Linked DNA regions of Homo sapiens. The protein of the gene in region 1 purifies or fractionates together with the protein of each later gene. This does not show direct contact. Each region holds a gene or a part of one and is shown in the gene's direction. Other genes may lie near its edges.

Region 1 (4,489 bases):
GAGTATCTCTGGGAGGCCTCATGTCTCCTGTGGGCTTTTTACCACCACTGTGCAGGAGAACAGACAGAGGAAATGTGTCTCCCTCCAAGGCCCCAAAGCCTCAGAGAAAGGGTGTTTCTGGTTTTGCCTTAGCAATGCATCGGTCTCTGAGGTGACACTCTGGAGTGGTTGAAGGGCCACAAGGTGCAGGGTTAATACTCTTGCCAGTTTTGAAATATAGATGCTATGGTTCAGATTGTTTTTAATAGAAAACTAAAGGGGCAGGGGAAGTGAAAGGAAAGATGGAGGTTTTGTGCGGCTCGATGGGGCATTTGGAACTTCTTTTTAAAGTCATCTCATGGTCTCCAGTTTTCAGTTGGAACTCTGGTGTTTAACACTTAAGGGAGACAAAGGCTGTGTCCATTTGGCAAAACTTCCTTGGCCACGAGACTCTAGGTGATGTGTGAAGCTGGGCAGTCTGTGGTGTGGAGAGCAGCCATCTGTCTGGCCATTCAGAGGATTCTAAAGACATGGCTGGATGCGCTGCTGACCAACATCAGCACTTAAATAAATGCAAATGCAACATTTCTCCCTCTGGGCCTTGAAAATCCTTGCCCTTATCATTTGGGGTGAAGGAGACATTTCTGTCCTTGGCTTCCCACAGCCCCAACGCAGTCTGTGTATGATTCCTGGGATCCAACGAGCCCTCCTATTTTCACAGTGTTCTGATTGCTCTCACAGCCCAGGCCCATCGTCTGTTCTCTGAATGCAGCCCTGTTCTCAACAACAGGGAGGTCATGGAACCCCTCTGTGGAACCCACAAGGGGAGAAATGGGTGATAAAGAATCCAGTTCCTCAAAACCTTCCCTGGCAGGCTGGGTCCCTCTCCTGCTGGGTGGTGCTTTCTCTTGCACACCACTCCCACCACGGGGGGAGAGCCAGCAACCCAACCAGACAGCTCAGGTTGTGCATCTGATGGAAACCACTGGGCTCAAACACGTGCTTTATTCTCCTGTTTATTTTTGCTGTTACTTTGAAGCATGGAAATTCTTGTTTGGGGGATCTTGGGGCTACAGTAGTGGGTAAACAAATGCCCACCGGCCAAGAGGCCATTAACAAATCGTCCTTGTCCTGAGGGGCCCCAGCTTGCTCGGGCGTGGCACAGTGGGGAATCCAAGGGTCACAGTATGGGGAGAGGTGCACCCTGCCACCTGCTAACTTCTCGCTAGACACAGTGTTTCTGCCCAGGTGACCTGTTCAGCAGCAGAACAAGCCAGGGCCATGGGGACGGGGGAAGTTTTCACTTGGAGATGGACACCAAGACAATGAAGATTTGTTGTCCAAATAGGTCAATAATTCTGGGAGACTCTTGGAAAAAACTGAATATATTCAGGACCAACTCTCTCCCTCCCCTCATCCCACATCTCAAAGCAGACAATGTAAAGAGAGAACATCTCACACACCCAGCTCGCCATGCCTACTCATTCCTGAATTTCAGGTGCCATCACTGCTCTTTCTTTCTTCTTTGTCATTTGAGAAAGGATGCAGGAGGACAATTCCCACAGATAATCTGAGGAATGCAGAAAAACCAGGGCAGGACAGTTATCGACAATGCATTAGAACTTGGTGAGCATCCTCTGTAGAGGGACTCCACCCCTGCTCAACAGCTTGGCTTCCAGGCAAGACCAACCACATCTGGTCTCTGCCTTCGGTGGCCCACACACCTAAGCGTCATCGTCATTGCCATAGCATCATGATGCAACACATCTACGTGTAGCACTACGACGTTATGTTTGGGTAATGTGGGGATGAACTGCATGAGGCTCTGATTAAGGATGTGGGGAAGTGGGCTGCGGTCACTGTCGGCCTTGCAAGGCCACCTGGAGGCCTGTCTGTTAGCCAGTGGTGGAGGAGCAAGGCTTCAGGAAGGGCCAGCCACATGCCATCTTCCCTGCGATCAGGCAAAAAAGTGGAATTAAAAAGTCAAACCTTTATATGCATGTGTTATGTCCATTTTGCAGGATGAACTGAGTTTAAAAGAATTTTTTTTTCTCTTCAAGTTGCTTTGTCTTTTCCATCCTCATCACAAGCCCTTGTTTGAGTGTCTTATCCCTGAGCAATCTTTCGATGGATGGAGATGATCATTAGGTACTTTTGTTTCAACCTTTATTCCTGTAAATATTTCTGTGAAAACTAGGAGAACAGAGATGAGATTTGACAAAAAAAAATTGAATTAAAAATAACACAGTCTTTTTAAAACTAACATAGGAAAGCCTTTCCTATTATTTCTCTTCTTAGCTTCTCCATTGTCTAAATCAGGAAAACAGGAAAACACAGCTTTCTAGCAGCTGCAAAATGGTTTAATGCCCCCTACATATTTCCATCACCTTGAACAATAGCTTTAGCTTGGGAATCTGAGATATGATCCCAGAAAACATCTGTCTCTACTTCGGCTGCAAAACCCATGGTTTAAATCTATATGGTTTGTGCATTTTCTCAACTAAAAATAGAGATGATAATCCGAATTCTCCATATATTCACTAATCAAAGACACTATTTTCATACTAGATTCCTGAGACAAATACTCACTGAAGGGCTTGTTTAAAAATAAATTGTGTTTTGGTCTGTTCTTGTAGATAATGCCCTTCTATTTTAGGTAGAAGCTCTGGAATCCCTTTATTGTGCTGTTGCTCTTATCTGCAAGGTGGCAAGCAGTTCTTTTCAGCAGATTTTGCCCACTATTCCTCTGAGCTGAAGTTCTTTGCATAGATTTGGCTTAAGCTTGAATTAGATCCCTGCAAAGGCTTGCTCTGTGATGTCAGATGTAATTGTAAATGTCAGTAATCACTTCATGAATGCTAAATGAGAATGTAAGTATTTTTAAATGTGTGTATTTCAAATTTGTTTGACTAATTCTGGAATTACAAGATTTCTATGCAGGATTTACCTTCATCCTGTGCATGTTTCCCAAACTGTGAGGAGGGAAGGCTCAGAGATCGAGCTTCTCCTCTGAGTTCTAACAAAATGGTGCTTTGAGGGTCAGCCTTTAGGAAGGTGCAGCTTTGTTGTCCTTTGAGCTTTCTGTTATGTGCCTATCCTAATAAACTCTTAAACACATTGATTGTGAACTTGTTTTAATATATTTCACGACAACTCGAAATACCTGGCAGAACTTGCTTTCAAGGTCATTACATTTATCCATCTCCCCTTTCAAAGAGTTGCTAAAAAGAAGGTACCTTGTGGCTGAGTTTCTGCACCTGCACCTGCTGGAGGCGACAGGGGGCGCTGGGCTCTGCCTTCCTTCATTACCTCAGCAAATGTGTACCCTGCCCCTCAGCGTGCTGCCCTTGGGGACATGGAATACAGAGGGCTGGGCTGCACTGCGCCCAGTGTCCATGGCAGCTGAGTCCACTCATCCATGGCCCCCTCATCACTCTTTAATTCTCTGCATCTTGTAAATTACATGGGTGATGCCTGGCGCAGAATTAAACATGTCCAATGGATGCGATGTGAAAACACTGTTCTATAATTATCATTGGAGCATTTATCACTACTTTGTCAGCAAAGCCCTTTCAGTTTATTTAACTAATTGGACAGGCAGATCAGATCGCTGGTTGTTTGGCTGCACAAATCTCATGGTGATTCCAAGTCAGGAACAGCAGATGGTGGTCAATTCTGAGTCAGCCTGCTTTTAAGATTGTGCAAAAGGCTGTGGCAAAGGCACAGGACTTAAGAAGAACAAAGGGTTCTGCTCTGTTATGCTAATGGTACAGGACACTTGCAATAAATATCCATTATTTAGGGTTAAATGCAGCTGATCCTGTTAGAAGTCTATTCATTAACAACATACACTTGGAAATTATTCCTCGATATGAACAACCATGGCTGTTCCCCCAACACACACACCCACACACATAAACACACACATGCATGACACAGAGATATGCATCCACAAACACACACAACACACACCCACAAGACACACACCCACAAGCACACACAGTTCTAACATCCTTCTGTGTCGTACTGGAACACCTGAGGCCAGTGTTTCTCAATTTAGGAAAAGCCTATGAAAGAAAACACCAACTTGTGATGGTTACATTTTTTGGTGACTTTTGCTATCTCACTAAAATTTCTTAAATGCTAGGTAAATCATTCGCAAACAAATAATTTGCCAAGAAAAATTAATTTGCACACATATCTATTGCACAATGCAGAGTACATTTGTGTTGCTATCATCAGACAAAATGCAGATTACAATGAGAGACTCAGACATGTACTATGTACCTTCTGTGGGATTGAACATGCATTGAGTGAGCCTATCAAGTTCTCAGCTGACTCTTGTGTATATTCAGCAAGAGGAGATACAGAGAGCAGAGATGATAAACTTGAAAACCAGAGAAGTCGGAGTCAGCCTTTCCCTGAATTATATTTGACATTACAGGTGCTTAGAAACAGAATGACTAATGGGTTTACCCTTCAGATCCTCTGAATGCCTCCTAACTCTCCC
Region 2 (6,319 bases), on another chromosome or scaffold:
AATTCCAGTGATTTGAATAAAAGCATCTGGGATGAATTCATTAGTGATGAGGCAGATGAAAAGACTTATAATGATGCACTTTTTCGATACAATGGCACAGTGGGATTGTGGAGACGGTGTATCACCATACCCAAAAACATGCATTGGTATAGCCCACCAGAAAGGACAGGTATTTCTCTTATTTTAACTTCTGTCTTCTTCACCTGGTTAATAATAGACAAAACGACGTAATGATTGCCCAATTACATGTAAGCAGGTTTGTTGGTTCTCTCTCTCCTTAAAGAAATAAATCGTGTATCTTCTCTTTCTACTGCCTTCTCTCCCCAACTTCTTTGCATTACCATGGTACTCATCAATATTGGTTGGATGAGGAACTTTTCTTATCTTGGGAAAGCCTTAATGGCTTTTTTTTTTCTTATTTACTCACTCATTAAAATACTTTTCATTACTCTAACACATGTTATAAAGAAATAGTTGGAAAAGTACATCGAAAGACTTTTAAAAATATTTGGTAACTAGTAAAAGGACTACCATCGAAAATCAACTCAAAAAATTGTCCTTTTATGGGTTAGCTGTATTATAATACATATCTATCATTTGCCCCTGTGTCTTAGAGGATATAATTTGACCAGCTCTACATTTAATCTGTGTAATTATGAGACTGTTTTACAACAATCTTGATGCAGAGTTGGTAGGTTAAGAAATTTGTATTACAGAAGTTAAAAAAAAAAAACCAAAAACTAGATTTTTAGGTTTATTTTACAGGCATTCTTATTTAACACTTAAAGATTTTGATTTCCAGTTATTAAAATGGTAGCTTTAGAACTCTTTGTAAGGAACAACTTTACAGTTTATTTATGACTACTTCTGTTGGCCCCTTAGTGGGGAAGCATTGTATTCAAATCATAGCAGAACAGGCTTGAGTTATGATATATCAAAAGGATGATAATATGTCACTGTATCTGGAAAAAAAGATAATTTGGAAGGAAAGGAGAGAAAGTTGGTTAAAATTCATTGTAAAATGTTCAGTTTGACTTATGAGGTTACAGGAGCACTTGATATTGAAATTGGAGTTGGAATTGGAGTGTTACCATTTAGTCATTCATTAAACAAATAATTTATTGCATGTCTCCATGTTCCAGGGCCTCTTAGCTGGGAGAACATCAGGAAAGAACAAAATCCTTACTCCTGGGGAGCTAGCATTCTAATAAAGGATGACAGGCAGTGAACAGAATATAACAGTATAAACAGAATAAATAATTATTCAGTATGTTAAAAGATGACATGTGCTATGGCAAAATAGAACACAAAAGGGATTTGGAAATATGTGGGAAAAGGAATATTGGTGGCCATAGGTTATGATTTTCAATAGGATACTTAAAGTAGGTCTCATTGAGAAGACACCACTTGAGTAAAGAATGTAGTTAAAGACTAGACAAAAGAGTTGGCCATATGGGTAAATGGGGAGGAAGTCATTTAGGTTGGAAAGGACATCTACTGCAAAGGCTCTATGGCGGGAGCATGCCTGAAATATTCAAGGACCAGTAAGGAAGCCACTGGGCTGGAATGGAGGGAGAGACGGGAAGTTGGGTATGCTGTTAAAGACCTACTTTGGGAGTGGGACTGGGGCAAATCCTGGAGGACTCTAGGCAGAATGAGAACTTTGGTGTTGACTCCAGATACAGTGCTGAGCCCTGATCTGGTCACCCTGGCTGTTGTGAGAACAGAGGCAGCAGACAAAGGTGGAAACTAGAAGACTATGGTTAGGAGGTTATAGAAGTAATTCAGGTTAAGTGATGATTATGACTCACACCAGAATGGTAGCACTGAGCAGCAGCTGGATTCTGGACATAGTTTGAAGGAAGAATTCCTGGGATTTCCTGATGGAGTGTAAATGTACAAGAATTACTCTAAAGTTTCTGGTCTGAGGAACTGGAAGTGTGGATTTGGCATTCCCTGAGATGGGAATATGGTTGATAAAGCACGGTTGCATGAGAAGATCAACATTCCTATTTATTTCAGTCTTTGTTCCCTCCCCTTCTTCCTAGGCTTTCTACATAGCTATTCTGCCATTCATTTTACTGCTTCCACTTTATTTTTCTTCCTTGTGCCTATGTCTTCAGCCTGCCACTGAGAACCAGTGGCATCCATTGGACATCTATGAAACCTGTGTGTCAGTCAGGGCCAGAGAAGTTGCTGACCCCTCTGGAAACATCCTTTACTGTTTTACTTCAGAGAATAATTACTGAAAGAGATTTTTGTTAAATGTTTATAATTAAAACAACAGGCAATTGTTCTTGTTCCAGAGTCATTTGATGTGGTCACAAAATGTGTGAGTTTCACACTAACTGAGCAGTTCATGGAGAAATTTGTTGATCCCGGAAACCACAATAGCGGGATTGATCTCCTTAGGACCTGTGAGTACTTTGATTTCACCAGGACAGTTGGGGGAACAAAGATAATTTTATTTGTCTCTTTTTGGACTATGTTTTTGGAATAAGATGAGTTAGTAGATTGTGCCAACGTGAAATAAAATCTCTAACAGTATCCAGTGAACTCTATTCTGTTGATATTTTAGAAGGTAGATACATGCTTACCAAATTTCAAATGATTTGAAGTTGACAGGGCCAACTACTTCATTGGATGATGGGATCTAGACCTTCAAAAGATGTTATTAATGGGCCCATTTAGTAAAAGGAAATTTAGTTGAGATAACTTATACATTCCTATATTTGAATTAAACACTTTCCACTGCTTGAGTTCAGGTAAGTATATGTGAAAAAAGTTTACTGCAAGCTCTAAATGAGTCAGTGAGTTGTCAGGCCTGTCAAAAGTGTTTATCCAGTCTTAGGTGATAGTAACAAAAGGGTAGATGTCAAAAAAGATGAAAGTATTTATTAGGAACAACCTATTCCCTGATGGTCAGGCAGCCCATGAAATACTGTCTTCAGATTTGAGCCTCAGTTTTCAGGGCTATAGGGACTTGCCCAGAAGAATGACCATGTTGTAAGAGAAAAGGTTGAATAAGAGGTAGGTATTCAGTTTTATAAAGAGAATGTGTAGCAAGCAGTTTATTACTAGGAGAGTTTGAAAGAAAGTAAGTTAGAAAAACACATAAGAAGTTCCAGAAAGCAAAACCAGCACCAAAAGGTGTAAAGTTTAGTCAAGATTGATATGAATGCATTTCTAATAATGAATATTATTGGAAAATGGAATGGCATGTTTTGTGAGGTCATCAGGTTTTCTTCCCATGTTGATGAGAGATTTATGATAATTAAAACTACCTTTAGATTCTCTGCTTTGTGCTTTATATATATTCTTCAACAGCCCTATAAGACAGGTCATTTATAATTACCATTAATTTACTTGTTGTTACTGCCTTTAGATCATATAAAGACCTAGATATTGTTGGTAGGTAGAGTCAGACTGATTTTTGTATCAAATCCTGGCTCTACCACTTACTGTGTTATTTTTACAAGTTATTTATGACTCTTGCCTCAGTTTCCTTAATTACAAAATGGAATTAATAATAATACAGCTGTAGCTATGGGGGATTGGATTCAGGACCCCCTGCTAATTCCAAGGTTGCTAAAGTACCTTATATAAAATGGCATAATATTAGCATATAACCTACACAATCCTCCTGTATACTTTAAATCATCTTTAGATTGCTTATAATACCCAATACAATATAAATGCTATGTAAATAGTTGTTATACTATATATTTGTAAATTTGTATCATTTTTTTTTCTGAATATTTTTAACCCTTGGTTAGTTGAATCTGCGGATGTGAAACCTGCAGATATGGAGGGCTGACTGTACCTACTTTCTAGGGTTGTTGGGAGGATTAATACAGAAAATGTGTAGACAAACATAGCATGGAACATAGTGAACCCTCAGTAATTGCTACTACCTGTTAGTGTCCTTTTACTTTTATCAGGACAAGAGTAGCATCCTTTTGAATAATGTGCTTTAGAAAAGAGGCCTCAATGTTAAAATACTTTCACACTTTTTGAGAAAAGATCTAATTAGAATATGAAAGAAATTGCCATTGCGGGGAAAATGGTCTGAAATCACGGTAACATTTCTTTTCTCTCTTTTTAAAAATCAGATCTTTGGCGTTGCCAGTTCCTTTTACCTTTTGTGAGTTTAGGTTTGATGTGCTTTGGGGCTTTGATCGGACTTTGTGCTTGCATTTGCCGAAGCTTATATCCCACCATTGCCACGGGCATTCTCCATCTCCTTGCAGGTAGGTTTTGTCATCATACTTACCTTTTAGCTTCTTCCTGTCTCTTTAGGGACCAAAGAGTTATAAATCTGAAATGTTCACGTATTAACTGCCCTGTCACATTGCCTGAAAAGCTCTTTACTGTGCTTTTATCCAGCCATGTTTTGTTTTGTTTTCTAAATTTTCCCCCAAGGTCTGTGTACACTGGGCTCAGTAAGTTGTTATGTTGCTGGAATTGAACTACTCCACCAGAAACTAGAGCTCCCTGACAATGTATCCGGTGAATTTGGATGGTCCTTCTGCCTGGCTTGTGTCTCTGCTCCCTTACAGTTCATGGCTTCTGCTCTCTTCATCTGGGCTGCTCACACCAACCGGAAAGAGTACACCTTAATGAAGGCATATCGTGTGGCATGAGCAAGAAACTGCCTGCTTTACAATTGCCATTTTTATTTTTTTAAAATAATACTGATATTTTCCCCACCTCTCAATTGTTTTTAATTTTTATTTGTGGATATACCATTTTATTATGAAAATCTATTTTATTTATACACATTCACCACTAAATACACACTTAATACCACTAAAATTTATGTGGTTTACTTTAAGCGATGCCATCTTTCAAATAAACTAATCTAGGTCTAGACAGAAAGAAATGGATAGAGACTTGACACAAATTTATGAAAGAAAATTGGGAGTAGGAATGTGACCGAAAACAAGTTGTGCTAATGTCTGTTAGACTTTTCAGTAAAACTAAAGTAACTGTATCTGTTCAACTAAAAACTCTATATTAGTTTCTTTGGGAAACCTCTCATCGTCAAAACTTTATGTTCACTTTGCTGTTGTAGATAGCCAGTCAACCAGCAGTATTAGTGCTGTTTTCAAAGATTTAAGCTCTATAAAATTGGGAAATTATCTAAGATCATTTTCCCTAAGCATTGACACATAGCTTCATCTGAGGTGAGATATGGCAGCTGTTTGTATCTGCACTGTGTCTGTCTACAAAAAGTGAAAAATACAGTGTTTACTTGAAATTTTAACTTTGTAACTGCAAGAATTCCAGTTCAGCCGGGCGAGGATTAGTATTATTTTTAACTCTCCGTAAGATTTTCAGTACCACCAAATTGTTTTGGATTTTTTTTCTTTCCTCTTCACATACCAGGGTTATTAAAAGTGTGCTTTCTTTTTACATTATATTACAGTTACAAGGTAAAATTCCTCAACTGCTATTTATTTATTCCAGCCCAGTACTATAAAGAACGTTTCACCATAATGACCCTCCAGAGCTGGGAAACCTACCACAAGATCTAAAGTTCTGGCTGTCCATTAACCTCCAACTATGGTCTTTATTTCTTGTGGTAATATGATGTGCCTTTCCTTGCCTAAATCCCTTCCTGGTGTGTATCAACATTATTTAATGTCTTCTAATTCAGTCATTTTTTTATAAGTATGTCTATAAACATTGAACTTTAAAAAACTTATTTATTTATTCCACTACTGTAGCAATTGACAGATTAAAAAAATGTAACTTCATAATTTCTTACCATAACCTCAATGTCTTTTTTAAAAAATAAAATTAAAAATGAAAAGAGACTCAATTGTATATAGAGTGTCTGAATTGATTTAAATCTCAACACTTTAGGATAAAGAAGTGGAGGCAATCTCTGTGGTTGTCTGTGCAAAGTGCATCTTGCTGTACAGGGCTGTCGTTACATCCTGTGTTTGGGTCTCTTGTTTGATCTTCTGGGAAATGTAGGAACCCCTTCCCCCTATTAGAAATAAGAAAATCTTTATCTTTTATTTTTCAGAATTTTAAACCATGTTCTCAAAAGTAGTTTTGTTATCTCTACATGTCATACTTAATGTGGCTAGTTTTCAGTAAAGTCATTTAGTGGCTGTGGATGTTTGTGTTCTATAGTAAATAACCAAGTCAGCTTCTGACTTAGAACAAAGTCAGCATTACTCTGTAGCCAATTATTGCCTGTGAAATGACTGGTTACTCAGGTTTCTATCTAATCTTAATTCTTGAAGATTCATTACCCTTCAGCGCCTTCTGTGGAAGGTGGAAAAGAGAAAAGCTAAATGAACAAACA
Region 3 (8,399 bases), on another chromosome or scaffold:
CTAGGCATTCACTTGGCCTCTCTTGGCCTTAAGCCCCTTCCTTGTGCCATAAGGAAGCTGGACCTTCGAGTCCCTCTCACCGCTGATTAGCCATGCTTCTAGCCTGGGAAGTGAGGCTGGGAAGCTGGCTTCAGGGATCTGTGATGTGGGGAGAGACAAAGGGTATGAGGTTTTTAAGCAGCTGGTAAGTTTCAATGCAAGCTACAGACAAATTGGAGGGATATTCAAGAAGCTCCAAAGAGGTGAGGGAAAGAGGTTATATTGGGCAAGGATCTATGAAGGGTCTTGTAGGTCTGAGTCCTTTTCTCCCCTACCCTGCATCACACTGTCCAGCATCCCGGGATGTGGTCTTCGCCTTTGATGTGGGGAATGGGGATGAGAACCTCACAGTACACTCAGACGACTTTGAGTTCAATGATGACGAGTGGCACCTGGTCCGGGCTGAAATCAACGTGAAGCAGGCCCGGCTCCGAGTGGATCACCGGCCCTGGGTTCTGCGGCCTATGCCACTGCAGACCTACATCTGGATGGAGTATGACCAGCCCCTCTATGTGGGTAAGCAGCAACCCAGAGGCAAGTCTGAAGCCTCCTTTACCTCCCCATCCTCCAAGGCCACTCGCCTTGTTTCCAGGAGCCTCCTGTCTTAGGTGCCAGTCCCCTCTGCTTCAGAGCAAGCCAGTGTCTCACTTGTCCCTCCAGGCCTTTGTATCCTATTCTATTCTTCCAGCCCTCTTGGCTCCCTTTCCAACTACAATACTTCATCCTGTCTCTGGCTCTGCCTCCATTTCTTTTCTTTTTTTTTTTTTTTTGAGACGGAGTCTCGCTCTGTCACCCAGGCTGGAGTGCAGTGGCACGATCTCGGCCCACTGCAAGCTCCGCCTCCTGGGTTCAAGCAGTTCTCCTGCCTCAGCCTCCCGAGTAGCTGGGACTACAGGCGCCCGCCACCGTGCCCAGCTAATTTTTTTTGTATTTTTTAGTAGAGACGGGGTTTCATCATGTTAGCCAGGATGGTCTCGATCTCCTGAGCTCGTGATTCGCCCGCCTCGGCCTCCCAAAGTGCTGGGATTACAGGCGTGAGCCACCGCGCCTGGCCCTGCCTCCATTTCTTGACCTGTTGCCTACCCTTCCCAGGATCTGCAGAGCTTAAGAGACGCCCCTTTGTGGGTTGCTTGAGGGCCATGCGTCTGAACGGAGTGACTCTGAACCTGGAGGGCCGTGCCAATGCCTCTGAGGGTACCTCACCCAACTGCACAGGCCACTGTGCCCACCCTCGGCTCCCCTGTTTCCATGGAGGCCGCTGCGTGGAGCGCTATAGCTACTACACGTGTGACTGTGACCTCACGGCTTTTGATGGGCCATACTGCAACCACGGTAAGTGCTGCTGGTTATGGGGCAACAGGGAGCCATAGGGTGTAATGGGATGTAGGGAGGGCAGGGAAGGAAATAGCATGTAAAGCCCATATCATGGAAAATTAGAGTTGTCCCTGGATTCCTGAGCTCTGAGTTTGGGGAGTTAGGCAGTTGAAGATCATGGGTGACTCCAAAGGCATGGACAAGGAAGGGATGGTACAGATAGCTGGTGCAAAAATATCTCAAAATCACCAAGTATGCTTTGGGAGCCCAAGGTGGGAGGATTGCTTGAGGCTAGGAGTTCGAGACCAGCCTGGGCAACATGGCAAGACCCTGTCTCTACAAAAAAAATTCTTTTTTTTTTTATGAGATGGAATCTCGCTCTGTCACCCAGGCTAGAGTACAGTGGCACGATCTCGGCTCACTGCAACCTCCGCCTGGTTCAAGCGATTCTTTTGCCTCAGCCTCCCGAGTAGCTAGGACTACAGATGTGCACCACCATGCCTGGCTAATTTTTGTATTTTTAGTGGAGATGGGGTTTCACCACATTGGCCAGGCTGGTCTCGAACTCTTGACCTTGTGATCTGCCTGCCTCAGACTCCCAAAGTGCTGGGATTACAGGCGTGAGCCACCGCGTCTGGCCAAAATAATTTCTTTTTTCTTTTTTTTTTTTGAGACTGAGTTTCACTCTTGTTGCCCAGGCTGGAGTGTAATGACTCGATCTCGGCTCACTGCAACCTCCACCTCCCGGGCTGAAGCGATTCTCCTGCCTCAGCCTTCCAAGTAGCTGGGATTACAAGTGTGTGCCACCACACCCGGCTAATTTTTGTATTTTTAGTAGAGATGGGGTTTCACCACGCTTGCCAGGCTGGTCACGAACTTCTGACCGCAGGTGATCCACCCACCTTGGCCTCCCAAAGTGCTGGGATTACAGACGTGAGCCACAGCGCCTGGCAAAATTTTTTAATTAGCTGGGCATGGTGGTGCACACTTAGGCCTAGCTACTCGGGAGGCTGAGGTGGGAGGATCACTTGCACCTAGGAGGTCAAGGCTGCAGTGAGCTATGATCGTGCCACTGCACTCCAGCCTGGGGGGCACAGCAAGGACTGTGTCTACAAAAAAAAAAAAAGCAAATCGCTTCTCCATCTTCCCACCATCACCATGGTAACACAGGCGAACTCCCTTGTCAATGTATTTGATGATTGCTGCATTCCTAAAACATGTCAATGACCCAGTTCTTGGTTAAGGTGAGCCTTGACATTCCCCATAGCAAGATCCTACACACATGCCAAGACTGCATCCTCCCTAAGGCTGGCCTATAGGGAGGATATATGAGCAGGTGGGTTACTGGTGGGAGGAGTGTGGGGGACTAGGGAGATACAAGACTTAGGGACCAACAGATTTCTGGTGGTGGTTTGGAAGTGTGAGTAGTGGCACATATACTACATGGGGTCAGGATATCCCCATCACCCAGGCTGGAGTGCAGTGGCATGATCTTGGCTCACTGCAACCTCTGCCCCCTGGGCTCAAGCAATTCTCCTGCCTTGGCTTTCCTATAGTAGCTGGGATTACAGGCATGCACTACCACACCTAGCTAAGTTTTGTATTTTTAGTAGAGATGGGGTTTTGCCATGTTGGCCAGGCTGTTCTCGAACTCCTGACCTCAAGATGATCTGCCTGCCTTGGCCTCCCAAAGTGCTGGGATTACAGGTGTGAGCCACTGTGCCTGGCCTTACTGCGTGTCTTTAAGCAAGTCACTACTCATCTCTGAGCCTGTTTCCCCATTTGTAAAATGCAGGGGTTGGATCAGATGATCTCCAGTTTCCCATGGCTGTAAGATTCTGTTCTGTGACAGAGGGGCTCAAGGGGACCTAAAAGTAAATGGAGGGTTGTGAGGGTGGCAGAAACTGAAGTAAGTCTCAGGATGTGTGTATGGATGACATAAAACCTCTGAATTGGGGAGTGAGCAGTGTGGGGGCCCTAACCTCCCTGCTTCTACCTGCAGATATTGGTGGTTTCTTTGAGCCGGGCACCTGGATGCGCTATAACCTACAGTCAGCGCTGCGCTCTGCAGCCAGGGAGTTCTCCCACATGCTGAGCCGGCCAGTGCCAGGCTATGAGCCTGGCTACATCCCGGGCTATGATACTCCGGGCTATGTGCCTGGCTACCATGGCCCCGGGTACCGCCTGCCCGACTACCCCCGGCCTGGTCGGCCTGTGCCCGGTTACCGTGGGCCTGTCTACAACGTTACGGGAGAGGAGGTCTCCTTCAGCTTCAGCACCAGCTCCGCCCCTGCTGTCCTGCTCTACGTCAGTTCCTTTGTTCGTGACTACATGGCTGTGCTCATCAAGGATGATGGTAAGCTCTCCCGGGCTCTCTCACCCCACTCCAGCTTCACCCCGGTGCCCCTAATTCTCCTATTGATTCACAAATACAAGGACCCACGTGCTGTTAGAAGATAGGAGTCATGGGGCCTGAGACCCCAAATTTCTTCTCCCCACCCCACAGGGACCCTTCAGCTGCGATATCAGCTGGGCACCAGTCCCTACGTGTACCAGCTAACCACTCGACCAGTGACCGATGGCCAGCCCCATAGCATCAATATCACCCGTGTTTACCGGAACCTCTTCATCCAGGTATGCATAGAGGGAGGTGAGCCAGTTCAGATCATAACCTCATGGTCTCCGTTGTGGCATCCAGGAAAACATCAAATACTTAATATTTGTAGATCACATTTGAATGTATAGAGGATTTTCACGTGTGTCACCTCATGTAACCCTCACAATAGCTCCAAGGGGACAATAGGCATTTTTTTTTTTTTTTTGAGATGGAATTTTGCTCTTGTTGCCCAGGCTGGAGTGCAATGGTGTGATCTCAGCTCACTGCAACCTCTGCCTCCCGGGTTCAAGCAATTCTTCTGCCTCAGCCTCCCGAGCAGCTGAGATTACAGGCATGCGCCACAACGCCCAGCTAATTTTGTATTTTTAGTAGAGACAGGAGTTCTCCATGTTGGTCAGGCTGGTCTCGAACACCCGACCTCAGATGATCCGCCTACCTCAGCCTCCCAAAGTGCTGGGATTATAAGCGTGAGCCACCGCGCCCAGCCAGACAATAGGCATTCTTATTTAAGTGTTTTACAAATCAGTAAAGAGCCTCAGAAAGTAAAGCGGTTTCAGCTACTCAGGAGGGTGAGGCAGGAAAATTGCTTGAACCTGGGAGGTGGAGGTTGCAGTGAGCTGAGATCGTGCCACTGCACTCCAGGCCTAGGCGACAGAGTGAGACTCCATCTCAAAAAAATAAAGTGGTTTACCCAAAGTCAAACCGCTGGTAAGCTGCAAAGATGGGGCTTAAAACCAGGGTTTTAAAAAATATATAGGCCAGGTGCAGCGGCTCACACCTGTAATCCCAACACTTTGGGAGGCTGAAGTGGGAGGACTGCTTGAGGCCAGGAGTTTGAGACCAACCTGAGCAACATAGCAAGACCTCATCTTCACAAAGAAAAATATTTAATAAATAAAATAAAATAATAATAATAAAAATATATATACCAAATCCTACATCTAGGCCCAGGGGTTGCCCACTTCAGATTGAGCTAGGACTCACCCAGCTGGCACCGCCAGTTTGGACAGAATGAGAGATCTCCAGTATCTGCCCCCAAGTATATTCCCAGGGTCCACACAGTTCCAGTCCAGCCCACAGGCATCTGCTTCTGGTCCCCGCTCCCTCATCGCCCTCCCCCTCCCCCTCCCCACCTCAGGTGGACTACTTCCCACTGACAGAGCAGAAGTTCTCGCTGTTGGTGGACAGCCAGTTGGACTCACCCAAGGCCTTGTATTTAGGGCGTGTGATGGGTAAGCTGCGGGTGCGGACGCGTTTTAGGCAAGGAGCTGTGGCATATGTTCCTGGATCCTCAAGGAAAGTGAAGGCCCTGGGAATGGCTGAGGGCAGTGGGAAGGATGAGTGGGAAACCTGTGGACAGTGAGAGTGGCAGGGCCTTTGGGTCCAAGTCCCTCTTTCTGGGCCTGCCTCTCTCTCAGAGACAGGAGTCATTGACCCGGAGATCCAGCGCTACAACACCCCAGGTTTCTCAGGCTGCCTGTCTGGTGTTCGATTCAACAACGTGGCTCCCCTCAAGACCCACTTCCGAACCCCTCGACCCATGACTGCTGAGCTAGCTGAGGCCCTTCGAGTTCAGGGAGAACTGTCCGAATCTAATTGCGGAGCTATGCCACGTCTTGTTTCAGAGGTGCCACCTGAGCTTGATCCCTGGTATCTGCCCCCAGGTACATTCCCAGGACACAGAGGACAGAAGGGAGGGATGACACGGAAGGGAATGATTCTTAACATGGAGGAGGCATCTCCTAACTGGTGCTTTCTCCTCTCCAGACTTCCCCTACTACCATGATGAAGGATGGGTTGCCATACTTTTAGGCTGTGAGTAGCACTGATCACTAAGCTGACCTCCCAAGACTACCCTCTGACTGTCAGCATCCTTTCCCTGCCCCTGATCCCCAAGGCTGCAGGATGGCAAAGGCACTAGATGCACAATGGCACAAAGGATGATGAGACAGGCTATGCTGAAGGTGCCATATAACTGGGCAGAGATTTTTAGATGTTTGAGGATGAGACAGGCTATGCTGAAGGTGACATATAACTGGGCAGAGATTTTTAGATGTTTGAGGATGCTACAGATTTTTAAATAAAATATTAAAATGAGACTATAGCTAAGGGATGGGAAAATGGGGATACAGTAACACCTAGAGAGATAAGAAATTGGGGTAACTACCAGGGATGTGGAAAGAGAATATTAGAAACAGAAGGTGGCAGGGGGTAAGCCAGGAATTCAAACCTGCCAGACACTTGAGATGAGTTTAGTGTGGTCGAACAGCTAACTGAGGGTCATACATTATGCTTTTGGCCAAAAGTAAATGTGTGTGTGTGTGTGTGTGTGTGTGTGTGTGTGTGCAGGTGAAATCCCAAAGTGTGTGTATGTATACAGGTGAAATCTCAAAGAGTGCGTGTGTGTGTGTGTGTGTGTGTGTGTGTGTGTGTATACAGGTGAGATCCCAAAGATCTGAATTGTCCCTTTTCTTCTTTTCAGTTTTGGTGGCCTTTCTGCTGCTGGGGCTGGTGGGAATGTTGGTGCTCTTCTATCTGCAAAATCATCGCTATAAGGGCTCCTACCATACCAATGAGCCCAAGGCTGCCCACGAGTACCATCCTGGCAGCAAACCTCCCCTACCCACTTCAGGCCCTGCCCAGGTCCCCACCCCTACAGCAGCTCCCAACCAAGCTCCAGCCTCAGCCCCAGCCCCAGCCCCAACTCCAGCCCCAGCCCCTGGCCCCCGGGATCAGAACCTACCCCAGATCCTGGAGGAGTCCAGGTCTGAATGAGTCAGAAGGGCTTCTGGGACCAATTCCAGCTCCTGACATTCCCCCAGTCCTGCCTCTCCCCCATCCTATCAGGGACATTTGGCTCCTCTTAGCTGGCTCTGCTCATCCAGAGGATATTCCCCCATCCCCCCCCCATCAAGTTTGGTGGGCAGAGCTACAGATGGGACCCAAGGGAGTGGCCGAGCCTCACTGCCTAAACCAATGCCCTTCTCATCCCTGTTTCCCCAGGCTCCTGGCTGTTTATCTGCCCCAAAGGAGAAGCCTCATGGGGTTGACATAGGTCCTTTCTGCCATCTCTGTTCCAGCTGCTGTCAGGGATTAACAACAGAGTGTAGGGGAGATTAACTGCCTCCCTTCCAATAGACACTATCAGCAGGGACAGATGTGTGGGAGTGCAGGGCTGCAGAGGGTATGGGGGGAGGAGGCTGCTAAACCCTATCCCCCAGCCTCCCCCCTGCCCTGAAGATCTTCCATTTGCTTCCACTCAGCTGGAGGCTCAAGAGGGCTTGATGGCTGTCCCCTGCCCCCCTCCTTTTGTTTTGTACACAGAGACCAAGAGGCCTCAGTTTAGCACCTTAGTACCTCCGCTGCTTCACTTGCTTTAGCCAAAGCCATAAAAAACCTGCAACGTAGAGAAAATAATGCAGATACCCTGACTAGCCAGCCCTCTACTCCTCCAACCTTTTCCAAGATATGCAATGGCCTTTGTGCCTGCCCAAAGGCTTCGCCCCCTCCAGTGCATGAGGAACCCTCTTTCCTCCGCTCAGAGATGCTGCTTCATTTACCCAGGAGGTCATATTCTTTATATATATTTTTTGTTGCAAAGTGTCTCTCTAGAGAAACTCTATATATTATTCGAATTTTTAAATTATTTGTTTATATATAAAAGAAAAGCTCAATTGGCTGTGCTGTCCTGTGCTGTGCTGTGCCCACAGTCTGTAGTTTGCCTTTCCTGTGTTGGAAGTGTCGTGAGTCCTGCTGGTCACCCACCAGCCTGGTCCGGCCTCCACTCTGAAGCAGGGTTGAGCCTGCTGTGCTCTCAGACGCGGAGCCGTTCCAATAAAGCAGAGTGGCAGAGCCCCAGTCTGTGTGTGGTAGCTGGCGTCGTGGTTAGGGGATAAGTGGGATGATTTTAAGGGAACTAATCTGAGGGCTCAGGAATTTCTAGAAGGAGCTCTCAGAATCCTTGCATCACCTTCCAGGGACTTGACTGACTGGCTCTTGCCAGAACCCCCATCTCCCCCTTTCCCAGATCTCAGTGGGTAAGTGGGGATCAGAATGCTGATGCTTCGGCCCAACCTGCTCCTGGACCCCATCCCTGGATCCTTCCAGCCCCAAAGCACACAGTACACAACTTGCCAAAATGGATTCTAACACTTTATTAAGAGGTCACAAGCCACAGGACTTTAAAGTGCATGAAATTTATTGGCAATGAAGCCGCATGTATACCAGGCTCCCCTAGTCCCCACCACCTTGCCCCATCCATCATGACGTGGTGGGGAGGGGTTGAGACCCATCTTTAAAAGTGGGGGACAGCAGGGACAAAGGATGGGAAACTGGAGGAACAGGAGTATTCATGAACTGAAGCTGGGACAGGAGACTGACCACAGTGATTCTGCTCACTGAAGGAAGGGTGGGGTCAGTCTAGTCTCTC

What was found.
Region 2: the proteins of CD93 (region 1) and CLDND1 purify together in Homo sapiens (affinity purification with mass spectrometry; 2 studies listed by BioGRID and IntAct, with this or other methods). This does not show direct contact.
Region 3: the proteins of CD93 (region 1) and CNTNAP1 purify together in Homo sapiens (affinity purification with mass spectrometry; 2 studies listed by BioGRID and IntAct, with this or other methods). This does not show direct contact.

What each region holds. Positions count from the first base shown.
Region 1 is NC_000020.11:23,077,967-23,082,455, reverse strand, and holds the end of CD93 (complement component C1q receptor precursor), read left to right. Parts: 3' UTR 1-3,096; downstream 3,097-4,489. UniProt on the Homo sapiens protein: Cell surface receptor that plays a role in various physiological processes including inflammation, phagocytosis, and cell adhesion.
Region 2 is NC_000003.12:98,514,983-98,521,301, reverse strand, and holds the end of CLDND1 (claudin domain-containing protein 1), read left to right. Parts: coding exon 1-169; intron 170-2,306; coding exon 2,307-2,417; intron 2,418-4,112; coding exon 4,113-4,250; intron 4,251-4,422; coding exon 4,423-4,643; 3' UTR 4,644-5,819; downstream 5,820-6,319. UniProt on the Homo sapiens protein: Plays a role in negatively regulating the permeability of cells to small molecules.
Region 3 is NC_000017.11:42,692,166-42,700,564, forward strand, and holds the end of CNTNAP1 (contactin-associated protein 1 precursor), read left to right. Parts: intron 1-333; coding exon 334-555; intron 556-1,131; coding exon 1,132-1,371; intron 1,372-3,355; coding exon 3,356-3,709; intron 3,710-3,859; coding exon 3,860-3,987; intron 3,988-5,108; coding exon 5,109-5,202; intron 5,203-5,388; coding exon 5,389-5,634; intron 5,635-5,737; coding exon 5,738-5,785; intron 5,786-6,452; coding exon 6,453-6,745; 3' UTR 6,746-7,828; downstream 7,829-8,399. UniProt on the Homo sapiens protein: Required, with CNTNAP2, for radial and longitudinal organization of myelinated axons. Plays a role in the formation of functional distinct domains critical for saltatory conduction of nerve impulses in myelinated nerve fibers.